4 linked regions of the Homo sapiens genome follow. The protein of the gene in region 1 purifies or fractionates together with the protein of each later gene. This does not show direct contact. Each region holds a gene or a part of one and is shown on either strand. Other genes may lie near its edges. The genes, in order: LYG2, SPATA20, VPS33B and ZER1.

Region 1 (8,020 bases):
ATATTGACAGGTTCAGTATCCTTTCACTGGGAGGCAGTCTTTGCCAGGCTCACTGTGTGGCCCACAGACCACAGGCATCAAAGTTACCCAGGAAGCTTATTAAAAATGCTTATCACTGGGCCGGGCGTGGTGGCTCACACCTATAATCCCAGCACTTTGGGAGGCCAAGGCGGACGGATCACGAGGTCAGGAGATCAAGACCATCCTGGGTAACACAGTGAAACCCTGTCTCTACTAAAAATACAAAAAAATTAGCTGGGCATGATGGTGGGCGCCTGTAGTCCCAGCTACTTGGGAGGCTGAGGCAGAAGAATGGTATGAACCCAGGAGGCAGAGCTTGCAGTGAGCTGAGATCGCACCACTGCACTCTCCAGCCTGGGCGACAGAGCAAGACTCTGTCTCAAAAAAAAAAAAAAAAAAAAAGGCTTATCACTGGGCTTTTCACACCAGATCTACTGCACCAAAATCTTGCAGTATAAGGCGAAAGAAGCTGCCTTTTACCCAGCATTCCCAGTTGACTCTTACACATGTTTATGAACCACTGCTTTAAGGGAACTGGAATATGACCATGGACCCTACGCTGCCTGTGTAGGCCTTATAAACACACAAGCCCTTTTTAAATTAAGAGTCACCTTTCAGCTATACACAGCTAATATGGTAGCTCATAATTAATCTACTGGCTATTTAACTCTGCTCTCACCTGGCAATCTAAAAAGAGTAAAAATTTAAAACTATGTTGCCCTGTTTTGACCATAAGTAACTGGAAATTACTTTCGGGTAGCCTTGTTTTTCCAAATTTAGAATTAAACATTTTAGAAACACTTTCCTTTCAGTCACCATTCTATAATTAAAGACAACTTGAACATTGCTCATAATGGCTTTTCATTTTGCTTAGGTCAGAGTTTTCACATTCTCTTATTCAAGATCCCTTACCAACTTACCAACCTATCTTTCCAGCCTTCCCCCCAGAAACCCCCTCGTCTGTCCAGACCACACTGACCCAAAGACTTTTCATTCATTTCTGCCTCTGCTTTTTTACTGAAATCTTTCTTCCCATCCAGCAGGCTCTTCCTTTTTCTTATTAAATCACCAAGCATCCTTCAATTGACATGTCCCCCCCAAAAGCCTTTCACATCTGAGCATTCTAGTTGGATGTGAGCTCTTCCTCCCAAACCTTTCCCAGACTAGTGCTTTTTTCCCACCTATACACATTGAACTCTCATCCACTGCTTGGCATTGATAATTGTCTCTTCATGTGTTTTGCTTCCAAGGCACTGTTCCATATACCTCTCGGTAAGGTATCCAGCCTGATAGGTGCATTGTCAGACAGGAAGTAAGCAGATCAATAAATATTAGATTATTTGAAATTCCCATAGATCCTGTTTTTCACCTGCTTAGCAAGCAGAACACACTGTTAATTATAGAAATAATAGTTGATTAATGGCCAAGCTGGTCAGAATGAGAGCCCACTCTTCCATTACAGGTAATCATTGCTCTTTCTGATTCATGATTGTGCTGGAGGTTTTTGTGGACACCCTGTGAACAATGCTAAATCTCAGCCAGTGACTTACCAATGAGGGCAATTAGTCCCCAAAACACCACGGAGGATAACATGGCGGGGAATCTTATCTTCCAGGACCTGCTCTGATTTGAAATAGAAACTGGTTAATTTTAAAACCTGAAAATTTCCTAAAGAAAAATTTGCTTTGATATTTTAAAAAGTTTAGAGTTATTTCCAATTCACTACTCATTTCCCTGTTTCAAGATAGTATTCTCACAGGCTCAGTACATAGTTTGTTGGCACACTCTCTTTCTTAAGCATAAACTCCTAATCTCACTTCAATCCAATTTCATATTGACATGAGTCATGCGTATCTTACATATGTAACTAAATATACACTCCCATCCCACCTCTAAGCTTGGTAACACCACAATTTTGTTCCCTTTCTTTTTAAAAAAAAAAATACTGATCTTTTCATTCTAGTTATTCACCCTACCCCTGGCTTCAAGGATCAGTTTTGGTCTTTCATTCATTTATTTAGAAATGGGATCTTGCTCTGTCACCCAGGCTGGAGTGCAGTGGCATAATCATAGCTCACTATGGCCTCAAACTCCTGGGCTCAAGCGATCCTCCCACCTCAGCCTCCTGAGTAGCTGGGGCGACATATGCGTGCCACCATGCCTGGGTGTTTCCATTCTTATACCAGGGTCTCCGTAGGGAAAACAAAATAAAACAAAATACCAACAGGAGCATGAGAACGTGACTTAGAAGAGGTTTCCTCTGCTCCATTTCTTCCTCAATCAACTCTATTCTTGGTTTCATTCAAATGGTAGCTTATAAGTTTTACAAGACATAAGAAGGCCAGCACTAACCTTGTTTGCAACCTTACAGAGAAAATCTCCCCTCTCTGTTTGCAAAGGTCTTCTGTACTCAGCAGCAAACTGCACTTCAAGCTTTTACAAAGCGACGGCCTTTGTCCTGTAACATAGGCTTAACAATTGGAGAATCCATTAGTCAGTAGATCACTGCGCACCTGGCTTCAACAGAGTAGACATCAGCGTGGCTCTACTGCTGTGGAGGAAACTTTTAAACACCAGCATGAAGACTCACCTGGCTTTTCTTACCTTCGTCCTGTACCAATGATCATTAGAGGAGCTTTATATATGGTTTAAAACCCTCTCTTTAAACCATTGACCTCATTAGGCCTGGTTATAATAGTACTTAGGACTTAGGTGACCCAATTAATAAGAGGATTTCAAAGGGCTTATTAACCACTATTAATTAATTAACCTAATGAACCCCCAAGTTGCTCAGGAGGCATATTTTGATAGATTGTTTCTAGATATCTAAAATTGTGCCAAACAGCTTCTAAATTTGCGAATAAGAAACAGATAATTCACTTTAAAAGGATAACAGGAAATACTAGCAATTTTTATTCTTGGATTGGTTATTTACCTGAAATATTGGGTCTCCTGCTTTTTGTTCCCATTCCAATGTCATATGATCCCCGTACCAGTATGTCACATGATCTCAAACCACTATGTCACATGATCATGATAGGTGAACTTGGCTCCTTACTCCAATCCCACTTCTGAGAAAAAGGTGCAAGTGTGGCCACCTGCTCTAGGAGATCAATGCAAAACCAGGGAGTAGCAACGTGAGTGCTCATTTGCCCATACTTGCTAAGGATATGGGAAAAAAGATTATAGCCAGGGATGAAAACTTCTTCAAGAAGAGAGTATCTTTCTTCAGGCTTATGTCCAAAGGAAGAGAGGAAGCATATTGTGCAGCCCCAGGAACAGGAAATGGAAGGGACGTTCTTGAAACAGGCAAAGCACATTGCGCTGAGGGGAGGAAGAAGTCTGGTCTGGGTCCTTCCACAAGCGTGTCCAGTTTCTCAGACTGCACACAGTCCTCCCCCACATCCACTGAGTGAAGAAAGGTGGAAGGCAGCTGTACAGGGAACAGGAAGACAAAACCACAGGCAACTTCCCAGCTCCCTGGCAATAAAACCACCTCCACTCCCAGGAGAACATGCCCTCCCCAAGCTGAGGTCTGCACAGTCCACTGGCATTCACTTCTGCCCTGCCTGCCTTCCTGCTTGTAGAACAGACGTCTCTGGCATGGCCTCTAGCCTTCCATCCCTGGAAGAGTGGCAGGGCTGTTCTGAGCCAATGGATGATTCCTACCTGACTCTCAGGAAAGTGACCCATGGAGGGTCTGCTCCACCACCATCAACACTGCAGTCAGGACCACTCTTGAATAAGGGATATTGCAGGAGTCTAACTGCCCTGAGGCAGGCCTTAGAAACCCATAGTCTATGACCCAGCGACATTGTGCCCGTGACCCACTTCACTGCAGGGTGAGTAGAGCCACTTACCTGAGGCTTCCAGGCTAAGTGCAATGAGAAAGCTCAAGAAAGGGAGATTAAGAAGTTACGAATGATAAGTTAGGTAAAAGAGAGTAGGTGGAGGCTGGGGCTCTCCCTACATGCACTGGAAGAAGACATTGTTAATAAAACATTTAAAGCACTGTTGAATGTGAAGAATACTTATCCTTCTGCTCTCAGTTAGTGGGGCTACGAGTCCTTCTAGGTATGAGGTCCTTAATGTCCAGGCTTCTGCAACTCAACCAAAATTGTTTTCAAACTGATGTGGATTGTTCTGTTCACTCAAGCTGTGAGAGAACAATTGAACATTTATTTGACACCCAACATTAGTCAGGTTCCTATGGATATTATATGACTCAATCCTCCACTGGCCCTGTGAGGCAGGTATTATCCCTTATTTTAGAGATGAGGAAACTGTGACTCAGAGAAGCTAAGTAACTTGTCAAAGATGGCACAGTTAGCATGTGACAGAGCCAGGATTTGAATCTAGGCCTGTAAGATTCCAAAATCCATGCTCTTCCACTGTATCGAAGTGCCAGCACGATGGACAAATGCCTCTGCAGAGCAATCATTGCAACAGGTCCAAATCAATCTGGATACAAAGCATTGTCCGTGGTCTGGAAAAATAACACCACTCACAGATTTTTATACCACTATCTGTCAAATGTTTGTAGGTGCTGTTGTAATTTCTAAAATGCAAATTAATATAAGTTAACTAAGTCCAAAGTGGTTTTTTGTCACTTTATATTTTCTCCACCAGTAATAATAATGTAGTTAATACGCACTGACCTTGTATGGTATGACTGGTAGAATAATAGGAAGGGGCATAACCTAAGTTTGTTACATTCTGAAGCCTAACTCTTAACTGCAGTACCCTACTGACCCAGTGGATGGTTAAGTGTGGGTACTATTGTATAATGACCTTAGAAATTTCTTGTCACTAAGAAGAAATGTACTGAATAATTCTCCATCTCTTCCCAGGGATACCAAGAATGACTACATGTAAGTTGTACTGTTATTTCCAGGAGGGGCTTGAAGGGAACTTGGCACCTGTCATAATCTCTATCAGTCCCCAAAATAAAAACACAATCTATATGCAAGCAATTTCTGTGCTATACAAATAAAACTCTATGGCCTGGTCCCCTACCCCTCAAATCAGTTGCCTGCTCCTAAGACTCTTCAGTGCAGCAATTCTCTGGCAGCTTCTGGGGAGTCCTAACAGATTTGGGGTTCCTGGCTTCAGTGGTGGAGACTCCAATCATCCCTAACGACTAAATGGCCTCAGCAATTGGAAAACTTCAATGGGAAAGTTTAAGCAGTACTGTCCTAGTTAGGAGGAGAGGAATGATTATGAAAACTGAGGTACTCTGTATAGCCAGGGAAGTAGATTCTGGTAGGAGTTCCTGGCAAGACTTCTCAATTCATACCACACAAAGACCTGCCCTTGTGCCCTGAGCTACCCTAGGTTAGCACTTTTGGGAGTTAAAGGAATCCAGCACCTCAGGCTCCCTTGGTCCCCTCGCCCTCTGCGTCCCCACCTGCCTCCCTCCCAACACTAGTCTGTGCTAATAGAGACTGGGTTGTCTCCGCCATGTCATTATTTGTGAATCCCAGGCACAGCTTTCCCTTCTCAGGAACAACAGCCAAGGAGGATGACCATAGCCAACTCATTTAACCTCCCTGAGCCTTAATTTTCCTCATCTGTAAAATGGAGATGATAATAATGCCCCATGACTTTGTTTTGAAGACAAAAATAAATTTTATATGTAAAAACATGTTATAAACTACAGTGCTTCATAGAGATGCCAGTTACTATCATGATGGGTTTGCACTCAAGTCCTGATGGCTTAGCTTCTTGTTGATTTATTCATTTGTTTGTTTATCCATGCACTCAGGAAAAATAAACAGCTGAATTATAGGACAGGAAGTAGGAGGTGAAGTCTCTCTCCAGCCATGAAGAAAACTTGGCAGGACAAGCAAGAGCTATTCATTGTCAGGACTCTGTAGCCTGCCTGGTAGGAGTGGAGGAAGGATAAGTTCAGAAACAGCCACACAAGCAGCTGCAGCCCAAGCATCTGTTTCACAGCTCTGAAACCTATAAAATGGGGGAGCTGCCCAAGAATATGTGGCAAAGGTACTTTGGCGCCAATGGCTGGTAAGAAGGCAGAAGGGGAGCCCTTCCATAAAATTTCACTAAAACATTCAACTTAACCCCAGGATATATCAATGTCAAGCTTTAACTGCTGTGTGCTTTTCTTGTCTTGGTTTTAATCTACTATATGATAGGTAAAATGCAGGGTATGCCCTGTTGAAGAAGCCACTTATATGGTTGCATTATTGGTCTTCCAATGTCAAACATTTGACCAACATTTCAGGAAAGAAGATATACAAATGGCCAATAAAGCTCATGAAAAATTGGTAAACATCTTTACACATCAGGGAAATGCAAAATAAAACCAAAATGAGACAGTATTTCACACTCTCTAAAAAGGCTAAAACCAAAGACTAGCTATATCACATATTGGTGAGAATATGAAACAAAACAGAACTCTCATACATTGCTGGTTGGAGTATAAAATGGTATGATTGCTTTGTAGTACTGTTCAGCAGTTTCTAACAAAGTAAATAACTATATGCCTCAGGAATTTTATTTCTAGTTATTTACCCAAGAGCAATGAAAAAAAAAAAAATGTCTCCCAAAAGACTTGTATGAGAATCTTCACAGATTGTAAGTTCTGCAAAGAGAAAAGAAAAAAAAAGAATTTTTACAGTGCTTTATTCATAATAGCTCAAAACTGGAAACACTCCAAAAAATTCATCAACAGAAGAATGGACTAACAGTTGTAGTATAACGATATAATGGAAAAATACACAAGTTAAAAAAAAAATCCAGGAAAAAATTCCAATGAACCTGGGCTGGGTCAGGTGCCCACCTCTGGATCATTCAACCATGTCTAGGAATATATTTGTTTGAAAAAGGGACTCCCTGTGGTTTGGAAAGGAGAAGGGAGAAGTCTGAAACAAAATTTTAAAGTAACGTTTTCATTTTGAAATAGTTTAAATTTCACAAGAAGCTTCAAAAATAGTACCAAGAGTTCTCATGTACCCTTCACCCAGCTTCCCCCAATGGCAATGTCTTACATAACTATAGTACATGTCAAATCCAGAACATTACCATTAGTATTATACAATACTGTAAACTTAGGTACAGACCTTATTTGGATTTCCCCAGTTTGTTTTTACACGCTCTTTTAAAAAAAATATTTATTTATATTTCAGAAGCGTATAGTACTGTGAACGTTTATCCCACAGGTAGATGCAAGTAACCATCACCATAATCAGGATACAGAACTGACCCATCACCATAAAAAGACTGCCTCATGATATCCCCTAACTATGTCTTTCATTGTGCCAAAAGTAAACTTTTTTTTTTTTTTTTTTTTGATGGAGACTCACTGTTGTCAGCCTGGGCTGGAGGGCAGTGGCATGATCTCGGATCACTGCAACTTCCACCTTCCAGGTTCCAGCAATTCTCCTGCCTCAACCTCCTGAGTAGCTGAGATTACAGGTGCCCACCACCACACCTGGCTAATTTTTGTATTTTTTAGTAGAGATGGGGTTTCACCATGTTGGCCAGGCTGGTCTCAAACTCCTGGCCTCAGGTGATCCATCTGCCTCAGCCTGCCAAAGTGCTGGGACTACAGGCATGAGCCACCGTGCCCGGCCAAGTAAGCTATTTTTTAAAAACAGCTTGATTTGAGGTATAATTCACATATCATAGCCTTCACTCATTTAAAGTGTGCAATTCAATGGTTTTTAGTATGTTGATAAGAGTTTTGCAACCATCAGCATAATCAATTTTAGAGTATTTTCATTATCCATGGAAGAATCTCCACAACCATTAGCAGTCATTCCCAGTTTCTCTCCCCTCCCTCTTCTCTCCTGTTCACCCTCTGACCCCAGGCAGTCACTTACCTAGAAGTCTGGATGATTTTGTAAAAAACTGCTCTATAGTTGTTCACTATACCTGTGATGGAGAGAAGAGCTGGAGCAGTATCTGGAGAAGGACTTGTGTCAAAGACAGTCCTTTTGTCATGGTTTAACCTGGGAGTGACTTGAATATAATCAAA
Region 2 (6,199 bases), on another chromosome or scaffold:
GGAGGCCCTGCTTCCATCCTTTCGAGGCTGGGGCTAGATGGATACCCCAAAAGAAATGTCTTAGTCGTGACAATAGCAGCTCCCACAATGCACCAGGGCATATGCAAAGTCACCATTCTGTGAAATATAAAAGCTCATATAAAGCATCTCTGCCCCCTTTCCAGCTCAACACAAGGAGACAATGGGGAGGGGAGGGCAGGTTCCCTTCTTAACCTCTTTCTGAGGGCAAGGATTGTGCTTTCTCCCTCCTGGGCCAGTCCACACCCCCATGCCCACCCCTGGGCATCTTTACTTGGTTTTAGTCCCCTGACCTCAGTTCAGGGGACTAAATTCATTCAGGCTACAATGACCATGGAAGGGAAAGGGGCAGTCTGCTGACCCCTGGAAGATGAAGGAGAAATGGGAGAAGGCAGAGGGGTCAGGTGGGGGCTGCCAGAGGAAGTGGCCCTGAGCTGCTGGTTCCCAGTCCCTCCCTCATAAGCAAAGCTGAGGCCCTCAGGTTACCACGGGACACTGTTAAGTTTATTCTAGGGTGAGTGGGTGCCCAAGGGGGGCAGTGAGTATGGCCGAGGTCACCTGGTGGCAGGGTGCTCAGGGATGGCCACAGGTTCTATAGGGCCCTGCAGGGCCTGAGTCTCTAGTCAGTTGGGATGCTTCACCTTCTGCCCCACCCCAAGGGGGTTGGGGCAGTCATGGATGTAGTAGTTTTCGTAATTCGCAGGGATCAGTGATGGGCACTGAGCAGGCTTGATTCTCACACACATATGCAGTGGCCTGGTCTTCCAACCGTCGGAGGGTACTCAGGAAAGGCAGCTGGCGGGACAGGAAGCTCGAGGGGTCCCCATCAGCCAGAATCAGCACCTAGGGCAGCAGCAGAGCAGGGAGAGTCACCTGCCGGGGTGGGGTCACCTGCCCATTAGAAAGGCCCACTGGGAAGTTCCCTCTTCCCAACATTCTGAGGGGAAGGAGATGTTGAGGAGCTGAGGATGGGAGGGGGCAGCTCTGGGGAGGTGGCAGATTGGGCTCACAGGGATGGGTACCTTGTTAGGAATGTAGACAGAGTGGACGCACTGCACCAGGGCCTTGGTGTCCTTGGCCTGACGGTCTCCACAGATCACGATCTGACCGGAATAGAAAGGTCACTCCGGTGTGTCAGGGGAGGGAGGGCTGAGCCCTAGACCACCAGGGCTTCCCCATCCTCCTTCCGCCCCACCGTATATCTCTAAGAAGGAACAGGGACTCATCTCAGCTGCCAGGATGAGTTAATGCTTGGCAAGTGGGAACACACACACACACTCACACATGAGAATACCGAAGTGGAAATGTCATACATATACACAATGGTACAGATACAAACATGGGGAGACACACACCCAGAAGACCCAGAGCACACAGAGACCCATTCAGACAGACACAGAGTAGTCACACACACACACACACACACACACACACACACACACACACACAGTAGATGCCCACACAGAGGCAGATACCACACACACAAACACCAGACACACACGCATGCAGGCAGACACAGAGGCAAACCTGCAGATGGGGCATCCACATGCAGACAGACAAACACTCACACCAGCATCCCCCTCAAAGGTAGGTGCACAGACACACACCTCCAGGGTCACACACACCCGGAAGTACACACACACCAGTAACACAGTATGGACAGAAGCAATTACACTGACACCAAGACGTACAGAGAAACACTTCATCAGCCACCACGGACTCATATTAACTTCTGCCTCCCTGTCTGACAGGCCACGTGCCTGCACACACACAGACCTGAGCTCTGGGGACAGCCCAGGAACCCCACCCCCTGTTCCCATCTGCCATCGCAGCCCCAACTTCCCTCCTACCCGAGGTCCCAGCCCAGATGCCCTCACCCCCCACCTGCTTGAGGGTCTGCTGCTGGGCTGAGAGGGCGCGGACCATCTCGGGCAACGCCACCGGGACACGACGCATGCGCTCGGAAAAGGCGGTCAATAGGCACACACACTTGTCCATCCAGTCCTTGTGGCCCGTGAAGCCATGCAGCCGGAGCAGGTTGTGGGCTGACACGGAATTGGCGCTGGGCTCTGCTCCATCCTGGTCTACAGCACATAGGGAGGCAGGGGGTGGGGGTAAGGGCAGGTCACTGAGTCCCAGGACCCTGCCCAGGACTGTATCCAGGGCCACTTGGGGGACGGGACAGAGAAAAGGCCCTGCCCATCCTGCCCCTTCCCCGCTCTGGGTGTGGATGCCACTCCAGCAGTTATCAGTACTTTGCTGTCTTTTTTATGGCACCCTCCACTCTACCTGTCCTAGCCTCAACTGTTGGTCTCCAGGCTCCCTCCTCGCTGCTGATGCCTCTGTCCAGCCACTCAGCTGCTCAAGCTAGAGCGGCATCATCCTGTCCCCTTCCTCTCCCTCTCCCTCCGCTTCTAATCCATCTGTGAGTCTTGCCAGGGCTGTGGCCAGAAGAGATCCAAATCTCACCATGTCTCCCCATCTCATACTTCCACATCCTCTGAGCCTTCACCAATGCCTGCCTGGACTGAACACGAGTAATGGCCTCCTAACTGGTCGCCTGTTTCCCCCACCCCCACTTCTCTCCATCAGTGGTCAGAGTGACCTCCTTAAAACCATACCAGAGCAGATCACAATCCACTTAAAACCTCCTTGCCAGCCGGGCATGGTGGCTCACACCTGTAGTCCCAGCACCTGGGAAGCCGAGGCGGGAGGATCACCTGAGCCCAGGAGTTTGAGACCAGCCTTCTTTTCTTAGGAAAAAAAAAAAAAAAAGACGGCTTCCGTGCCCTGCCGGCCTCAGCATTCTCCTCGGTGCCCTCCTGGAACACGCGGGCCCTGCCTGTCCTCCAGGATACAGGCTGCCTGCACCAGGCCTGTCATGCACTGCTCCCTATGCCTGAACTCTCTCCACAGCTTCTCCATGGCCACATGGCCCCTCTTTCCCTCCAGGCCTTGGTTAAATGACACCTGTCACAGGTGTCCTCTAATCTCTCCCTAGGCTGAGTTGGTCCTCCTCTGTGGTTCTCTCCCAAGGCCCTTTCATTCACTCAGTTAACATTTATTAAGCACTTACAATGTGCCAGAACCACACTAGACCCTGGGGATACAACAGTGGCAGAAAGTCCTGATCTTTGAGGAGCTAAAATTTGAGTTTTGGGAAAGAAACCTTTAACCACAGACAAGGCACATGGGTGATAGGGAGCAGGCACACATAGAGCGTCCTACTTCTTCATGGCACTCACCACAATTTTAACTGCACATTTGTGCATGTGTTTTTGCATCATTACTGCATTTTCGCTGTCTCCCCTACCATACTGTAAGCTTCATGAGGGCAGAGACCAAGTGAGCCTTGGTCAATATCTGAATCCATGGGTGTCAGTTACTGTGCTAAGCATGTTTACAGAACAGCTACATTCATCTTTACATCAACCCTGTAAGGTAGTACCAATGTTAGCTCCATTTTACTTATTAAGAAACAGGCCAGGCATGGTGGCTCTCGCCTGTAATCCCAGCACTTTGGGAGGCCGAGGTGGGCAGATCACTTGAGCCCAGTAGTTTCAGACCAGCCTGGGCAACATGGAGAAATCCCATCTCTACAAAAAATTAGCCAGGCATGGTGGTGCATGCCTATAGTCCTAGCTACTCAGGAGGCTGAGGTGGGAGAATTGATTCAGCCCCGGAGGCAGAGGTTGCTGTGAGCCAAGATCATGCCACTGCATTCCAGCCTGGGTGACAGTGAGACCCTGTCTCAAAAAAAAAAAAAAAAGAGAAAGAAAGAGAGAAAGAAAAGAAAGAAAGGAAGAAAGGAAAGAGAAAGAAAGAAAGAGAAAGGAAATAAAAAGAAAAGAAAGGAACGAAACAAAACACGCTGAGTGTAGTGGTTCATGCCTGTAATCCCAGCACTTTGGGAGGCCGAGGTGGGAGGATCACTTGAGCCCAGGATTTCAAGATCAGCCTGGGCAACATAGCAAGACTCTGTCTCTATTTAAAAAAAAGAAATTGAGACACAGAAATATTACAGCAGCCAAAAATCACGCCATTAATAAGTAGCAGAGACACAAAGCCAGGAGGGCTCCTGCCCACACCAGCTCTTCACCCACGCTGCACTTACACCTCCCAGGACCCCAGACTAGCCCTGCACCCCCACTGACCGTCCTTCAGACGCAGGGGCAGGCCAGCCCCCAGCTCAGCCTCACTGCAGAAGTAGCCGCCACCCTGGGAGTCCCAAAAGAGCTTGTCCTGTGTGTCCTGCAGCCGCAGAGCCCACTCGAGCCACGCACTCTCCTGTGAGGCCTCATACAGGTCCAGCAGGCCCCGCACCACGAAGGCGTAGTCCTCCAGGAAGCCCCAGCAGGGTGGGTTGCTGGGGGACAGGCATTACGGGAGGGGCTGGGGAGAGCCCCAGGAGAGAGGGCCTTTCCCAGAGGAGGCCCTTTCACGCATTTGTTCACTTAACCCTCCAGATGAACCCTCTTGGGCAGGTGCCATCAGCCCACTTCCCAGATGAGTAAATGGGCCCAGGGAAGCTACAAACTCACAGCAAGCACCTGGCAGAGCCAGGACTGGAGTCCACATGGAGGGGAGAAGTAGGGCAGAGGTAGGCTGGGGACGCGTTGGGGAGACGGGCCCTCCCGGTCTACCCAGCCCCCAACCTGTGCTCCACAGTCCCCCCAGGGCCGGTGTAGCAGGTCCGCATCAGGCGGCCACTGGCCACATCAAACATGTGCCGCTTCAGGAACTTGGCACCATTGGTGGCATAGTTGATCAGCCTGTCTTGGCCCAGGACAGCCCCAGTCACAGCATAGCCTGACACCATCAAGCCTGGAGCCAGGAGAGACAAGTAGTGGTAAGAAGCTGGCCAGGACCCTCCAGGCATGTCCACCCTATCACCTTAGGCCCCAACACCTCCCTGGAGCCATGGGTGATCCCTAAGATCTTGGGCTCCAAAGCCAGACATGGCGGGGTTCCCAGCCCTTGCGCGTGACCTTGGGCGGGTTACTCAAGCTCCTTAAGCCTCTTTTGTCAACTGAGAATAATAACGCTAATCAAGGGAGAGTGAGCATTTAGCCGCTGCCGGAAAGACAGGGGCTTTGTGAAGGGGGATCCTACAGACAGGCTCGGTCTCAGGTGTGCTGCCCCACCATTCCAGGCAGCCAGCATCTTGCTGTCCAGGTGCGGCTTGGGCCGATGCTTCCGGGCCTGGAAGAGCTTCTCCAGCCCTGAATTGAGCAAGGTCCGCACGGCCTCCACATCCAAGCCAAAGCGGGCAGCAGTCAGCTCCAGCGAGTACCGGACGGTCAGCACATTCTGGCCCTGCAGCTCCCCCTTGGGGTCCTGAGGAGAATGGCCTTTGTCTGCGAGCTCACACGCCTGGCAGGCACCAGGGCCCGTCAGGTGACCCCAGAAGTCCTCACCTGACTGGGGCTGATGTTACCAGCCTCTGTGAGGCCGTAGTGCTTCATGAGGAGCTGGCCTGAGGTCAGCGGCTCGGTGGCACCCAACACAGGCTCCGGGAGGAGCTGCTGAACCTCTTTGACCGTCCACACATAGTAGGCGCCCTCTTTGGGCCGCTGGCCCCGCTCTGGGGGCGAGTCTGCATCTTCTGCGCTATAGAAGCCTCCGGACTGTGGGGAGGGGAGAGTTGGCTGGCCCCGGCCCACAGGGCAGTGGAGGCCCCAACCCCTCCCACAGCCAGGCCTGCCTGCCACCATGGACACACACCCGGTGGCTCAGGCTCCGAGCCACGTACTGCAGGATGCCTTTGGCCACGTCAGAGTAGAATTCATCACCAGAGAGCTAAGAAAGGGAAGAAAGGAGACTGTGAACAGAGAGGTCACTGGGGAGGCCCAGGTGGAAGGTGGCAACATTCTCTGAGGCAGGCGGGGGAGGGAAGCCTGGGTAGTGGGTACATGGGAGGGAACAGGGGATTCAGATTAAGAGAAGCCACAGTCACCAGGAAGGCCTTGGGAGGGGCAGCCAGAGTGAGATGCCTGTTCTCTGGGCTGGGGTCAGGGGTCACCTGGAAGGCCTGCGAATAGGCCACAGCGAGCTGTGCCTGGTCATAGAGCATCTTCTCAAAGTGAGGGACGTGCCACTGGCGGTCTGTGGAGTAGCGGTGAAAGCCCTGTGCGGATACAAAGCTGGAGGCCAGTCCCAGCTTCTGCCCCACCCCACAGCC
Region 3 (7,868 bases), on another chromosome or scaffold:
CCTTGATCCTCTAATTAACAGGGAAAAATAAAGCTTTTGTGTATTGAAGCATTCCAATCAGCTGGAAATGTTAGAGGAATCTGAAGACCAGAGAAACAGGAGGCAGGGAGTCCACTTAGGGAGTTAATAAAACCATCCACAGAGCGCAAGCATGTGGCAATGAAAGAGGCCTGATTTAGGCTGGTGGTGGTGTGAGCAAACATAGATTAAGAGATACATGGAATGTGTAATATAATTTTTTTTTTTTTGAGATGGAGTATCGCTTTTGTTGCCCAGGCTGGAGTGCAATGACGCGATCTCGGCTCACCGCAACCTCCACCTCCTGGGTTCAAGCAATTCTCCTGCCTCAGCCTCTTGAGTAGCTGGGATTACAAGCATGGGCCACTATGCCCAGCTAATTTTGTATTTTTAATAGAGATGGGGTTTCTCCATGTTGGTCAGGCTGGTCTCGAACTCCCAACCTCAGGTGATCTGCCTGCCTTGGCCTCCCAAAGTGCTGGGATTACAGGCATGAGCCACCGCACCCAGCCTAATATTTTTTTTAATACTTGAAAGAAATTAACAGTGTTAGTAGTGTTTATAACTTATGGTAGGGCTATAAGTAGTTTTCTTTTCCTTTTTACTTTCCTTAATCTTCTTACATTTTCTATAATGTGCAAGTGTTATTTTATAATCACCATAAAAAAGTTATGTGTAAAGAAGTATCCATGGAACTCAGCAACTGGTTCAGTTAAGTATCAGGGTGAAGGAGAGGCAAAGATGATTCTGATATTTCAAGCTGAATAGCAGTGCACATTAACAAAAATTAAGTCAGAAGTTAGTTAGGAGAGGACGTTATTGCCTGGAAATCCACTTTGGCCATGCTGAATCACCCAGTGGGCTCAAGTTTCTCTTCTTGGTCTCCTCTACTTGATCTCACCTGAACTAGTGGCTTTAACTAGCACCTCTTTTAAATTCTTCAGACATTGTTGCAAGTCTTTTATGTGCATGTCACTGTGCAAGCACTAAGTATTAAAGAGAAAGAAGCCGGGAGTGGTAGCTCAAGCCTATAATCCCAGCACTTTGGGAGGCTGGGACGGGCAGATTACCTGAGGTCAGGAGTTTGAGACCAGCCTGGCCAACATGGTGAAACCCTATCTCTACTAAAAATACAAACATTAGCCAGGTGGGCTAGCGTGCGCCTGTAATCCCAACTACTGGGGAGGCTGAGGCAGAAGAATCGCCTGAACCCGGGAGGTGGAGGTTGCAGTTAGCCAAGATCGCGCCACTGCACTCCAGCCTGGGCAACGGAGTGAGACTGTGTCTCAAAAAAATAAATAAAATAAAATAGAAATAAAATCTGGTCTAAGATGCCCTGCAGTTCTCATCTTGATCCATCTTCCTTCCAGTCCTCACAATGCAGCTGCAGTTCTACATTTCTATCTGCTGGATGTTACAAGCTATATTTCTTACGGGCATCTTAACTTCCCCCATCCAAACCCAAACAAATCAACTTCCCCCATCAAACCTGTTCCTTTTTCTAATTATTTTTCTCATTTCTATTCAATGTTAATACAACAAATATTTATTAAGCACATGGTGTGTGCTTGACTCTAAGCTAGGTACTCACTAGGTAGTGTTGAACAAAACAAACATGATCCCTGCCCACCTTCCAGTCTAATGAGGAATACAGACATAAAATGAATAACTAAATGATTACACAAGTAATCCATTAAAATCACAGTGGCAGTATTATTTTCCTAATAACCCAGGTTAAAAATCTCACTCATTTTTGCTTCTCCTTCAACATTTATAACCAATCAGTAAGTCTTTGAGTTTTCTTTCACCATAACTTAAAAATCCATCACTTTCCTTCATTCCCACTGCTACCAATTTTGTGTGGGCCTTTATTTCTTGTCTGATCTACGGTCTCCTAACTGGCCTTCTTGTTGCCCATTTACGCCACCACACACATCACTATTAGAATCATCAAGTATTGTCTCATGCCACAAATGGAAAAAAAATTTTTTTCAGTGGCTACTGTGTAACTGCTGATGGGTGTCTTCCCTTACATGCCTTGTCTTTCCCTGGTTTGCCAACTTTGCTCCTACCAATCTATCTGCCTGGAGCATGCTTAGTCTCCAAAGAAAATATGCTTATTACTCACACTCACTTCCTTGAAGCTCCTAGATCATCACCCCAACTAGAAATGATCACTTACTGTGAACTCTTCGGGTACACTAGCTCTATCACTCATTTACCACCTGTGTGTGATAATTTGTGCTTCATACAGCTCCTACTGGAGTGGTAAGATCCCTAATGGCAAAGATGTCTTAACCATCTTTCCGTCCCTAGGGATGCCTGGCACTAATGGTGTCTCCCTTGCCTGTATGCGGGGTTGGGGGGTGATTTCCATTAACTCTCTGGCCAGGTTCCAAACAGCTCTTACTACTCCCTGGATTCATTCTGGACCTGCTGGGGAAGCGCCAAGGACAATACCAGGGGCCAAGAACAAGATCAAAGGGGCACGGCAAGGAAGAAATGTGCATCCAATGAGTGCTAAACTGTAGATGCGATAAAGGCGTCAGGCAAGCACTGACCTGCTCCAGCAGATAGATGAGCTGGTCTCGAGCCAGCCTCTTCAGCATGGAGAAGTCAGGCAGCTCAGGGGCGTCCGGCCGATGGGGAAAAGCCATGGCAGCGGTCACCTGCGCCGCGGGGTGGAAGGACGCCCTTCGTTCTGAGAAGGCCGGCCGCAGCCCAGGGAAGCGCAAGGGGGGCTATCCTTCAGGCCTGGGCACCGACTTCCAGAGACCCCAGATGGGCCCTCGCTCCTCAGCAGCACTCCAGGAATGAATGGCCACCTCCAGGCAAGAGAGCTACTACCTCGGAGCAGCCTTGTCTCAGACCTGCAGCCACCGTGTCTCGACCCTCCCTCCCTGATCCACTCTGCCCGTCAGCAGGATTCCGGTCTACACCCCGCAGAGACTCCGCAGCGTACGAGGAGAACCCCGCCTTCTACCAGAAAAAGAAGCGACTTCCTAGATCTCCCGGAAGTCCCTTTCGCTCCCAGCGCTTCGCGTACCAGGAAGGGGACGGCGTCCTGAAAGGGACATTTGAAAAACGGAGGCAACGCGTCTATTAATTAGGTGGCGGCGCCTGGGGTCGCAGCACTCCAGAGGCTGAGGTGGGAGAATCGCTCGAGTCAGGGAGGCGGAGGTTGCAGTGAACTGCGATCGCGCTACTGCACCCCAGCCTGGGCAACAAAGCTAGACCTTGCCTCAAAAAAAAAAAAAAAAAAAAAAAAAAAGACATAATGAATGCATCAGGCTAGCTAACAATACCTCAACTCTGATCAATCATACCATCATATCATTTCCTGGTGAGATGCATAGGAAATACAGAGCATCACCTATTGCCAAAAATTGAACCTAATCAAGCCTCAAGATCTAACTACCAGTTTATAGGCTATATAGAGATTAGCAGGAATATGTTAAGACACCAAAGGTATGAAATCAACCATATCCAAAATGTAGGAAATTATATGGGACAAATGATCTGTCGTCTTCAAAAAAATGGCAAAGTGGGAAATGTGGGAGGGGAAAACACTTCAGAATAAAAGAGATTTAAGAGATGTATCAACAAAATGTTTCAATGTGTGGATCTTTTTTGGATAATAATTCAAAGATAACTGATTTAAGGAATTACTAAAACTTTTCGGGTATTGTATTTCTTTTCTTCTCTTTTTTTTCCTGACAGAGTCTCGCCCTTTTGCCTAGTGGAGGAGCTCGGCTCACTGCAAGCTCCGCGCCACAACCCCCCTGCCGCCCCAGGTTCAAGAGATTCTCCTGCCTCAGTCTCCCGAGTAGACTGGGATTACAGGCGAGTGCCACCATGCCCGGCTAATTTTTGTATTTTTGGTAGAGACGGGGTTTCATTATGTTGGCCAGGCTGATCTCGAACTCCTGACCTCAAGTGATCCGCCTGCCTTGGCCTCCCAAAGTGCTGGGATTACAGGCGTGAGCCACAACGTTGGGCCAGGTATTGTATTTCTATGTTATTATTATTTTTTGTATTTCTATGTCATACAGGCTTGTATTTCTGTTAAAAACAAGTCCTTATCTCTTTGAGATACATACTGAAGTTTTTACAGGTGAAATAATTTGGCCAGGAGTAATGGTTCATGTCTCTAATTCCCACCACTTTGGGAGGTCCAGGTCGGGGTCGGGGGGTTGCTTGAGGCCAGGAGTTTGAGATAAGATTGGTCAACTACAACACATAAAAAATAGCCAGGCATGGTGGTGGGCACCTTTAATCTCGATACTTGGGAGGCTGAGGCAGGAGGATCACTTGAGCCCAGGAGTTTGAGGCTGCAGTGCGCTACGATCATGCTACAGCACCCCAGCCTGGGCAACAGAGTGAGACACCGTTTGTTTTTTCTTTTCTTTTTTTTTTTTTGAGACAAGGTCTGGCTTTATCTATCACCCAGGCTGGAGTGCAGTGATATGTTCTGTCTCTTTTTTTTTTGAGATGGAGTTTCGCTCTTGTTGCTCAGGCTGGAGTGCAATGGCACGATCTCAGCTCACTGCAACCTCCACCTCCCAGGTTCAAGCGTTTCTCCTGCTGCAGCCTCCTGAGTAGCTGGGATTACAGGCATGTGCCACGCACCCAGCTAATTTTGTATTTTTAGTAGAGACAGAGTTTCTCCATGTTGGTCAGGCTGGTCTTGAACTCCTGACCTCAGGTGATCTTCCCGCCTCAGTCTCCCAAAATGCTGGGATTGTAGGCATGAGCCGCCATGCCTGGCCCGATCTGTCTCTTAAAAAATAAAAAAAAAAACTAAAATATGTTTGGGATTTGCTTTAAAATAACCCAGGGGGAGATGTAGGAACATTCAGGAAAAAGATTGGGCCAGGCACGGTGGCTCACGCCTGTGAACCCAGACCGAGGCAGGTGGATTGCTTGAGCCCAGGAGTTCAAGACCAGCCTAGGCAACACAGTAAGACCCCCATGTCTATAAAAAAATTAAAAAATGATTGGCCATTTGTTAATTGTTAAAGCTGATGGGTACATGGGGGTTTATTGCATTTTAGTATTCTACGTCTTTATTTAGAGATGGAGTGTTGCTCTGTTGCCCAGGTTGGAGTGCAGAGGTATAGTCATAGCTCACAGCAGCTTTGAGCTCCTGGGCTCAAGTGATCCTCCCACCTCAGCCCCCCAGATAGCTGGAATACAGGCACATGCCACTTTGCTGAACTTCTCCCTACGTTTCTATGTTTGAAAAGCTGTATAATACAAGGTTAAGCAAAAAACAAAAAACACGCTATGCTCACACTGGACTTTGAGAGCTCATATGGTATTTTATGCTGAGCCTTTCTTCCCACTAACGCCCTTAGATTGAATCTTGGCTGCAGTGGGAGATGGAGGTTGCCCTAAAGTGGTGGGATTTACTCCCACTGCTGCTTAAAGAAGATGAGTGAGGCATTACATTACACTCCTTCTTTTCCCCCCCGGAATCTCACTCTGTTGCCCAGGCTGAAGGGCAGTGGTGCTGTCTTGGCTAACTGCAACCTCCGCCTCCCAGGCTCATGCGATTCTCCTGCCTCAGACTCTGGAGCAGCTGGAGTTACAGGCATGCGCCAGCACTCCCAGCTAATTTTTGTAGTTTTGGTAGAGATGAGGTTTCTCCATGTTGGCCAGGCTGGTCTCGAATCCTGACCTCAGGTGATCCACCTGCCTCAGCCTCCCAAAGTGCTGGGCTTACAGGCGTGAGCCACCGCGCCCAGCCTTATTTTTATTTTTATCCCATGACTTTTTTTATCCCATAACTTTTTCTTCCTAAGTTTTTTCCATAACTTTTTTTTTTTTTTTGAGATGGAGTCTTGCTCTGTCACCCAGGCTGGAGTGCAATGGTGCATCTGGGCTCACTACAACCTCCACCTCCCGGGTTCAAGCAATTCTGCTGCCTCAGCCTCCTGAGTAGCTGGGACTACAGGCACGCACCACCATGCCCAGCTAATTTTTTGTATTTTTAGTAGAGACAGGGTTTTGCCATGTTGGCCAGGCTGGTTTCGAACTCCTGACCTCAGGTGATCCGCTCACCTCGGCCTCCCAAAATTCTGGGCTTACAGGAGCGAGCCACCACGCCGGGCCTAGTTCCCTGCTTTTGGATGACAGTAATCTTCATCTCATCTGCACCTGTTTCCCCCATTGGACACTTCCCCAGGTTTTGCTGACAGTGGCCTGCTTTTATTTAATTTTTATCACATGACTTTTTTTTTAATCCCATAGCTTTTCATAAAACTTTTTTTGGAATAATTTTTTTTCATAACTTTTTCCACAACTTTTTTCCCACAATTTTTTTCCTCAGTCTTTTTTCATAACATTTTTTATCCCATAATGTAACTTTTTAAAAATCCCATAACTTTTTAATCTCATAACTTTTTTTTTTTTTTTTTTTTTTTTTGAGACGGAGTCTGACTCTGTTGCCGAGGCTGGAGTGCAGTGGTGCGATATCGGGTCACTGCAACCTCCACCTTCTGGGTTCCAGCAGTTCTCCTGCCTGAACCTCCCAAGTAGCTGGGACTACAGGGGTGTGCCACCATGCCTGGCTAATTTTTTATATTTTTAGCAGAGACGGGTTTCACTGTGTTAGCCAGGATGGTGTTGATCTCCTGACCTGGTGATCTGCCCGCCTCGGCCTCCCAAAGTGTTGGGATTACAGGCGTGGGCCACCGTGCAGAACATCTCATAACTTTTTTAATCCCATTACTTTTTTTAATCCCATAACCTTTTCAGTTTGTGTTCTTTTAATAAACACTTGCATAGTTATATTACAATTTTGTAAAAATAAAAACATTATCCCATGCCAAGTGTGCCCAGCACTTGCACAATCTCGATACCTTTAATACTATGGTTTTCAAGACACACAAAATAAAATTTTAAGTCAAAAACAGCACTTTGCAACAATAACTTATTACATTACAGTAACATCACAGCAGTATTCGATAATGACACTTTAGGCAAAAGTCTTTCAGTATTTCCATTATAAATTCTATTTACAAGAATTCGTAAATAGGTAAAAGTTATTCTAAGAAAACTTGACAAATAAAACTTTGGACTGGAATTGGCATTTCTTTCTCTACTTTTCCTTCTCCAGTTTCTTTCTTTTAAGCTACAGTATTCATATTTTAAAATGTTTTATTTCAAAACATTAAAATAACAGTTACTTTTTTAATAGTTATACTATTATAAAATGACTCCTTAAGATAAAGTTTTAAATAAATTATATTCTGGATAGGGCTGATTTACATTTTGAAATTTTCTAAAAATCAGCTTGGTTTTAAAATGGATTTTTTTTTCCATTTCCGGAAAACCTATCAGGTTTAATCAAATACTTTAAAAATGATTATCATATATTGCAATCTTTTTTTTTTTTTTTTTTTTTAGAGATGGAGTCTCACTCTTTTGCCCAGGCCAGACTGCAGTGGCGCTATCTCGGCTCACTGCAAGCTCGGCCTCCTGGGTTCATGCCATTCTCCTGCCTCAGCCTCCCCAGTAGCTGGGACTACAGGTGCCCGCCACCGTGCCTGGCTAATTTTTTATATTTTTTAATAGAGACGGGGTTTCACCATGTTAGCCAGGATGGTCTCGATCTCCTGACCTCGTGATCCGCCCACCTCGGCCTCCCAAAGTGCTGGGATTACAGGCACTAGCCACTGCACCTGGCCCATGCCTGGCCTATTTTTATAGAGACAGGGTCTCACTGTGTTGCCCAGGCTGGTCTCAGACTCCTGGACTCAAGTGATCCACCCACCTTGGCCTCCCAAACTGCTGGCATTACAACTGTGAGCCACTGTGCCTGGCCTATTTTTATAGAGATGGGGGGG
Region 4 (7,518 bases), on another chromosome or scaffold:
TAATTTTTGTATTTTTAGTAGAGACGGGGTTTCACCATATTGACCAGGCTAGTCTCAAATTCCTGACCTCAGGTGATCTGCCCGCCTCAGGCTCCCAAATTGCTGGGATTACAGGCATAAGCCACTGAGCCCAGCCTACAGTACTTGATTTTCATACGTTGAACCATCCTTGAATTCCAACAATAAATCCCATTCCCACATCTCACTTGGTCATAGTATATTGCTATTTTAATATGCTGCTGAATTTGGCTTGCTATATCGAAACTATATCTTTTTTCAGCCTCTTACTTTGAACCTATTTCTGTCTTTACATTTAAAGTGGGCTTATTATAGGCAGCATTTTGTTGGGGCTTGCTTTTTTAAAAGTAAAAATTTTAGAGGCAGGGTCTCCTTCTGTCACCCAGGCTGGAGTGCAGTGCACCATCATGACTTACTAAAGCCTCAACCCTCTGGGTTCAAGAGATCCTCCTGAGTAGCTGGGACTACAGGCATATGCCACCATACCTCACTAATTTTTAAATTTTTTGTAGAGACAGGATCTCACTATATTTCCCTTGCTCGTCTCAAACTCCTGGATTCAAGTGACCCTCCCACTTTAGCCTCCCAAAGTGAGAGCTTGTCTTTCTTTCTTTCTTTCTTTTCTTTCTTTCTTTCTTTTTTTTTTTTTTTTTGAGATGGAGTTTCGCTCATGTTGCCCAGGCTGAAGTGCATTGGCGCCATCTTGGCTAACCACAAACTCTGCCTTCTGGGTTCAAGTGATTCTCCTGCCCTAGCCTCCCAAGTAGCTAGAACTACAGGCATGCACCACCACACCCAGCTAATTTTTGTATTTTTAGTAGAGACAGGGTATCACCACATTGGCCAGGGATGGTCTTGATCTCTTGACCTCATGATCCACCAGCCTCGGCCTCCCAAAGTGCTGGGATTACAGGCATGAAGGCATGAGCCACTGTGCCCAGCCATTTTTTTTTTTTTTTGAGATGGAATTTCGTTCTTGTTGCCCAGGCTGGAATGCAATGATGCCATCTCAGCGCACTGCAACCTCCACTTCCCGGGTTCAAGAAATTCTCCTACCTCAGCCTCCTGAGTAGCTGGGATTACAGGCATGCGCCGCCACGCCCGGCTAATTTTGTATTTTTAGTAGAGATGGGTTTTCTCCATGTTGGTCAGGATGGTCGTGAACTCCTGACCTCAGGTGATCTGCCCGCCTCAGCCTCCCAAAGTGCTGGGATTACAAGTGTGAGCTGCTCTGCCCAGCTCGCTCTTTTCTTTTTTCTTTCTTTCTCTCTCTCTCTTTTTTCTTTCTCTCTCTCTTCCTTCTTCTTTTCTTTCTCTCTTTTCCTCTCTCTCTCCTTCCTTCTTTCCCTTCCTTCCTTCCTCCCTCCTTCCCTCTCTCTCTTCTTCTTCTTCTCCTCCTTTCTTTCTTTTTCTTTCTTTCTTTCTTTTTCTTTCCTTCTCTCTTTCCCTCTTTCCTTCCTTCCCTTCTTTCTTTCTTTCTCTCTCTTTTTTTCCTTTCTTGTCTTTCTCTCTTTCCCTCTTTCTCTCTCTCTCTCTTTCCTTCCTTCCTACTTTCTTTTTTTTTTTTTGAGACAGAGTCTTGCTCTGTCACCCAGTCTGGCCTCAGCCTCCCAAGTACCTGGGACTACAGGCAAATGCCACTACGCCTGGCTAATTTTTTTTTTTTTTTTTTTGTATTTTTAGTAGAGACAGTGTTTCACTATGTTGTCCATCTTGTCTCAAACTCCTGGCCTCAAGTGATCCGCCCACCTGAGCCTCCCAAAGTGCTGGGATTACAGGCATGAGCCTGGGGCTTGCTTTTCTATGCAATGTGACAAACTCTGCCTTTTACTTAAAGTGTTTAGACCCTTACATTCACTATGATTATTTTCCTGGTTTAATCTAAGCCCATTTTGCTATTTGTTTCTTTTTTTTTTTTTTTTTTTTTGAGACGGAGTCTCGCTCTGTTGCCCAGGCTGGAGTGTAGTGGCGCCATCTCGGCTCCCTGCAAGCTCCGCCTCCCAGGTTCACACCATTCTCCTGCCTCAGCCTCCCGAGTAGCTGGGACTACAGGCGCCTGCCACCACACCCGGCTAATTTTTTTGTATTTTTAGTAGAGACCGGGTTTCACCATGTTAGCCAGGATGGTCTCGGTCTCCTGACCTCGTGATCTGCCCGCCTCGGCCTCCCAAAGTGCTGGGACTACAGGCATGAGCCACCGCGCCTGGCCTGTTATTTGTTTCTTATTTCCTATTTGTTTTCTGTTTTCTTTCTTTTTCTTTTGTTTGAGACAGAGTCTCACAGTGTTGCCCAGGCTGGCGTGCAGCGGCGTGATCTCCGTTCACTGCAACCTCCGCCCCCAGGGTTTAAGCAATTCTCCTGCCTCAGCCTCCAGAGTGGCTGGGACTATAGGCACATGCTGCCACACCTGGATAATTTTTTAAAATTTTTTATTTTAGTAAAGACAGGGTTTCACCGTGTTGCCCAGGCTGTTCTCGAACTGCTGAGCTCAGGCAATCAGGCCACCTCAGCCTCCCAAAGTGCTGGGATTACAGGCGTGAGCCACCAAACCGGGCTTTTTTTTTTTTTCTTGTGAAACAGAGTTTCACTCCTGTTGCCCTGGCTGGAGTGCAATGGCACAATCTTGGCTCACTGCAAACTCTGCCTCCCAGGTTCAAGCGATTCTCCTACCTCAGTCTCCCAAGTTCCCAAGTAGCTGGGATTACAGGCGTGCGCCACTATGCCCAGCTAATTTTTGTATTTTTAGTAGAGACGGGGTTTCACCATGTTGGCCAGGCTGGTCTCAAACTCTTGACCTCGTGATCTGCCTGCCTTGGCCTTCCAAAGTGCTGATATAACAGGCTTGAGCCACGACGCCTGGCCCAAGCAATGTATTAATATGAGAGTTCCCATCTAGCCATATCCTCGTCAACATTTGTTATTGTCTCTCTGATGATGTCCATCTTAAGGAGCATAAAACCGTACCTCCCCACCTCCTGGGCTCAAGCAATCCTCCAACTTCAGCCTCCCGAGTAGCTGGGACTACAGATGCGCACCACCATGCCCTGCTAATTTTTGTAGAAATGGGGTCTCCCTATGTTGCCCAGGCTGATCTCCAACTCCTGGGCTCAAGCCTCAGCCTCGACAACCCCATCTGCTGAGATTATAGGTTGTGAGTCACTGTGCCAAGCCCAACAGCTTTTTTAAGGATTCAAGACTGTACGAACATAGTTGTAGCTGGTCAAAGATTAAAAGGTGCTATGCAAGAAAAAAGAAATCCACAAAATTAGTTCTTGGAATGGAACTGAGGCACCTGTCAAGAAAGGGTTCCTCAAGAAAGGAGCATCTAGCTAGGGTGTGGTAGCTCACGCCTGTAATCCCAGCACTTTGGGAGGCTGAGGTGGGCGCATCACCTGAGGTCAAGAGTTTGAGACCAGCCTGCCCAACATGGCGAAACCCCATCTCTACTAAAAATACAAAAATTAGCCAGACGTGATAGTAGGCGCCTGTAATCCCAGCTACTTGGAGGCTGAGGCAGGAGAATTGCTTGAACCCGGGGAGTCTGCAGTGAGCTGAGGGCCATTGCCCGCCAGCCTGGGCAACAAGAGAGAGAAACTCCGTCTCTCAAAAAAAAAAAAAAAAAAGAGAAATCCAGAGAAGAAATGATGGTGTTTTGAGATGGAGTCTTCCTCTGTCGCCCAGGCTGGAGTGCAGTGGTGCGATCTCAGCTTACTGCAAGCTCTGCCTCCTGGGTTCAAACGATTCTCCTGCTTCAGTCTCCTGAGTAGCTGGGATTAGAGGCGCGCACCACCACGCTCGGCTAATTTTTGTATTTTTAGTAAAGACGGCGTTTCACCATGTTGGCCAGGCTGGTCTCGAACTCTTGACCTCAGGTGATCCGCGTGCCTCGGCCTCCCAAAGTGCTGGGATTACAGGCGTGAGCCACTGCGCTCGGCCAGAAGGAACTGGTTTGACAGGATCCTTAGGACTTGGAGACTGGACGAGGGGCCCAGGAAAATGTAGGGGCCGAGGTCGCCGCCCAATTTCCCATTTGGAAGCTCGGTTGCCTGGTGGCGCATGCCCTAGATGGAGGTTAGGAGCACCTTTTGGGGGACGGTGATGACTGCGGGTTGACACGCGAGTGTGAGCCACCCGTGGAGAACGCAAGACATGTTCAACAGGGCGCTGGATGGAGGGGGCTGGCGCCCAGAGTCAGTCCTGCTATTCAGCAGTGTTGGGCTCAGGTGAACCGCAGCGCCAGGGCGGGCACCGATCCTAGGGTCCCACGAACAGGCCCCTCGGAGGCCAGGGAGAGCCCTGAATGACGCGTTCTCTCGGGTGGCCTGGGGGGGGCATCCCGCGGCTTCCTCCACCGGCGTAACGTGCCGGGCCCGGGGAAAGGAGCCGCCCGCCGGTCCCCGGAACCTTCTGCCGCCGCCGCCCGCGTTAGCCGCGGGACGGGTCGGGGGAACCCGATCGCTGTTGCTAAGGGGCGGCCCCGGAAGTGACGCGCCCCGGGTTTGTTGACAGCGGAGGCGGCGGCGGCTGCAGGCTCCGAGCCGTAGGAGCCGGATCGGGGGAGGGGCCGGGCCCAGGAGCCTCAGCCCCGCCGGCAGCCCTAAGGGCAAGGTAACCGCCACGGGGTCCCCGTCGCGACCCCCTCCCTCCCGGAGCTCCCGTCCCCGGGATCCCAAGCTCCGCCCCGCCGACCCCCGTCTCCCCTGGACCCCGGCTCTAGCCTGACGAGATCCCCAACCTCCTGAGGTGCTCTGGCCCCGGATTCTCCCGGGCTGCATTCTCTGCTCCTCCTCGCCTGCGAAGCATCACGTCCGCTTCCCGACGCTGAGGGCAGCCCCGTCCAGGGTAGGTCCCGGACCCCGGGCCAAGGGACGTACCTGCGTCCTCCTCCTTCGCCTCCTGCCTACGGGGCCTAAGCATCGCCGCTGCAACCACTCTCTGAGGTCCATCTCCGCCAGTGGTGGGAGGGTTCCTTTCTCTATCCCTGCCGCCAGGTCTGAGAATCGTGTCTTTAAAACTGAGCTCCCTTCCTCCAGAAAGAAAATGACGCTCTGTCGTTTGCCCCTACAAGATGGGGGATCGGTGTAGGGCTGAAAGGGCCACCCTCTGCCCCTCCTACCTGTTGGATGAGCTTAAGTTCCCCCAGAGAAGTGCTTAGAAGCTCAAGGACGACTTGGATTCTGGATCAGCTCCCAAAAGGGATGACACAAAGTATAGGGAAATCCAACAGGGTGAGGTTGCAACCGGAGGGCCAAGGGAGCCCGACAGGTGAGTTGATAGTGAAACTGACTGTGCTGGCCACTATAGCTCTCTGGGTGGAACTTGTCTTGGCTGCTCTTTGACCGAAAGAGCCCAAGATTTCCAGTCTTTGCCTGTGTTTGTCAGTCCATTCGTTTTGTTTTGTTTTGTTTTTCTTTAAATAGAGATGGGGTCTCACTATGTTACCCAAGCTGGTCTCGAACTCCTGGGCTCAAGTGATCCGCCCGCTCCAGCCTCCAAAAGTGCTGGAAATACAGGCATGAGCCACCGCGCTCAGCTAGTGCATTTGATTTTTAAGGGGGAGGGGAATGGAATGTCTGATGTCTTGGGAAAATCCTTCCATATATGATCTTTCACAGAATGTTTCTCTTCAGACTTCAAACTGGTTAGGATGAGCATAAAAGCATAGCCTTGAAAAGGGTCACGGGAGGCTATACTTAGAGCAGAAAGTGGTGGCCAGGGGTGAAGGGCCTCGCTACTTTGGTTCATTTGTTCATTCAGCAAATAATAAACATGATATGTAAGGAGGTAATAAGTGGTTTGGAGAAAAATAGAGAAGGAAGGACCATGGGGAAGGAGTTGGGAGTTGTCATTTTATAGAGGGTGTTCAGGGAAGGTCTCTAGTAAGGTGACCTTTGAGCAGAGATAAGTGAGGGAGCAAGCCAGGTAGTTCTCTTGTGGCAGAGCATTCCGCAGCAAATGCAAAGGTCCTGTGGTCATATGCCTGGTGATTTGAAGAAACAGCATAAGGGCTCACGCTTGTAATCCCAGCACTTTGGGAGGCTGAGGCAGCCGGATCACCTGAGGTCAGGAGTTCAAGACCAGCCTGGCCGACATGGTGAAACCCCATCTCTACTAAAAGTACCAAAAAAAAAATTAGCTGGCCGTGGTGGCTCATGTCTGTAATCCAAGTTACTCAGGAGGCTGAGGCAGGAGAATTATTTGAACCTGAGAGGTGGAGGTTGCAGTGAGCCGAGATTGTGCCCATTGCATTCCAGCCTGGGTGACAAGAGTGAGACTCTGTCTCAAAAAAAAGAAAGAAACAGTGGGAGGATGGGGGACTGGAGCAGGTTGAAGAAAGGGAAGAGTGGTTGGCAAGAAAGTCAGAGAACAGTGGGGACCAGAAAAAGGTGGGGAAGACATCAGGGGCTGTCCTTGTGATACAGGGTCACAGGGTGTCTAATGGGACACCCTTTCAGAACCGTACTTGTTGAAGTGTCTGGTGGTTGGAGAAAATACAGATTTGTTTTAGATGACAAATGGCCATTGTGCTTGGGGCTTCGGTTGTAAGTACCCTTCTTCCATCTTTGTAATGACCATTGATGGAACAAATACAAAGAATCATGGTCACAGAGAACTGCGATTAAATCAAGTTAAGTTATGCCGCTGCTTCCTGGTTGTGAGAAGGTGGGCACGGGACCTTTTTCCACCTCAATCTTCTCATCTGGAAAATACAGCAGGCTGGGTGTGGTGGCTCACACCTGTAATCCCAGCACTTTGGGAGGCAGGTGGATCACCTGAGGTCAGGAGTTCGAGACCAGCCTGGCCAACATGGTGAAACCCCATCTCTACTAAAAATACAAAAATTAGCCGGGTGTGGTGACGCATGCCTGTAATCTCAGCTACTGGAGAGGCTGAGGCAGGAGAATCGCTTGAACCTGGGAGGTGGAGGTTGAAGTGAGCTGAGATCATGCCACTGCAGCACTCCAGCCTGGGCGACAGGAGCGAAACTCCATCTCAAAAAAAAAAAAAGAAAGAAAGAAAAGAAAAGAAAATAGGGCTGTTGGATTAGATAAAATCATGGGCTGAAGTGCTTAATGCAGTATTTCACACAAAGTGCTCAATACATAGCGGTCACGCTGATGAGGATGATGTGATGATGAGGAATGTGGGCATGTATGTCTGCCTCAGAGCCGTTCGTTTTAGCACTAGCTGGTGGTGTCACCAGCTCTAGCTGCCTCCATCAACTAGTAGGATTTGAGGAAATATTGGGGAAAGCAAGACAGAAACTTCTTGACACCCCTCAGAGGTAACTGGGTTAATATTCTGCAGAGAAGACGTTAGCTTGGTCCTGGCTTTTCTGACAGCAGCGGAGGGTGATGGGGACTTTTAAAAAAGAGCCCAGCACTGCCAGCGCTTTGGGAGGATCGCTTGAGGCCAGGAGTTTGAGACCAGTCTGGAGAACATAGGGAAACCCTATCTCTAAAAAAAAAAGAATTAAAATGAGCCCAGCAAATTTCCATT

The links.
Region 2: the proteins of LYG2 (region 1) and SPATA20 purify together in Homo sapiens (co-immunoprecipitation; 3 studies listed by BioGRID and IntAct, with this or other methods). This does not show direct contact.
Region 3: the proteins of LYG2 (region 1) and VPS33B purify together in Homo sapiens (affinity purification with mass spectrometry; 2 studies listed by BioGRID and IntAct, with this or other methods). This does not show direct contact.
Region 4: the proteins of LYG2 (region 1) and ZER1 purify together in Homo sapiens (co-immunoprecipitation; 3 studies listed by BioGRID and IntAct, with this or other methods). This does not show direct contact.

Annotation. Positions count from the first base shown.
Region 1 is NC_000002.12:99,252,647-99,260,666, forward strand, and holds the start of LYG2 (lysozyme g-like protein 2 precursor), read right to left. Parts: upstream 3,021-8,020; 5' UTR 2,957-3,020; intron 2,492-2,956; 5' UTR 2,374-2,491; intron 1,645-2,373; exon of another isoform or gene 1,640-1,644; 5' UTR 1,615-1,639; coding exon 1,572-1,614; intron 1-1,571. UniProt on the Homo sapiens protein: May act as a potent antibacterial protein that may play a role in the innate immunity.
Region 2 is NC_000017.11:50,550,154-50,556,352, reverse strand, and holds the end of SPATA20 (spermatogenesis-associated protein 20 isoform 1 precursor), read right to left. Parts: intron 6,146-6,199; coding exon 6,041-6,145; intron 5,818-6,040; coding exon 5,743-5,817; intron 5,646-5,742; coding exon 5,436-5,645; intron 5,356-5,435; coding exon 5,163-5,355; intron 4,843-5,162; coding exon 4,674-4,842; intron 4,385-4,673; coding exon 4,173-4,384; intron 2,103-4,172; coding exon 1,903-2,102; intron 1,122-1,902; coding exon 1,041-1,121; intron 862-1,040; coding exon 691-861; 3' UTR 501-690; downstream 1-500. UniProt on the Homo sapiens protein: May play a role in fertility regulation.
Region 3 is NC_000015.10:91,019,575-91,027,442, forward strand, and holds the start of VPS33B (vacuolar protein sorting-associated protein 33B), read right to left. Parts: upstream 3,021-7,868; 5' UTR 2,676-3,020; coding exon 2,580-2,675; intron 1-2,579. UniProt on the Homo sapiens protein: May play a role in vesicle-mediated protein trafficking to lysosomal compartments and in membrane docking/fusion reactions of late endosomes/lysosomes.
Region 4 is NC_000009.12:128,768,923-128,776,440, reverse strand, and holds the start of ZER1 (protein zer-1 homolog), read left to right. Parts: upstream 1-4,513; 5' UTR 4,514-4,860; exon of another isoform or gene 4,861-5,283; intron 5,284-7,518. UniProt on the Homo sapiens protein: Serves as substrate adapter subunit in the E3 ubiquitin ligase complex ZYG11B-CUL2-Elongin BC. Acts to target substrates bearing N-terminal degrons for proteasomal degradation with the first four residues of substrates being the key recognition elements.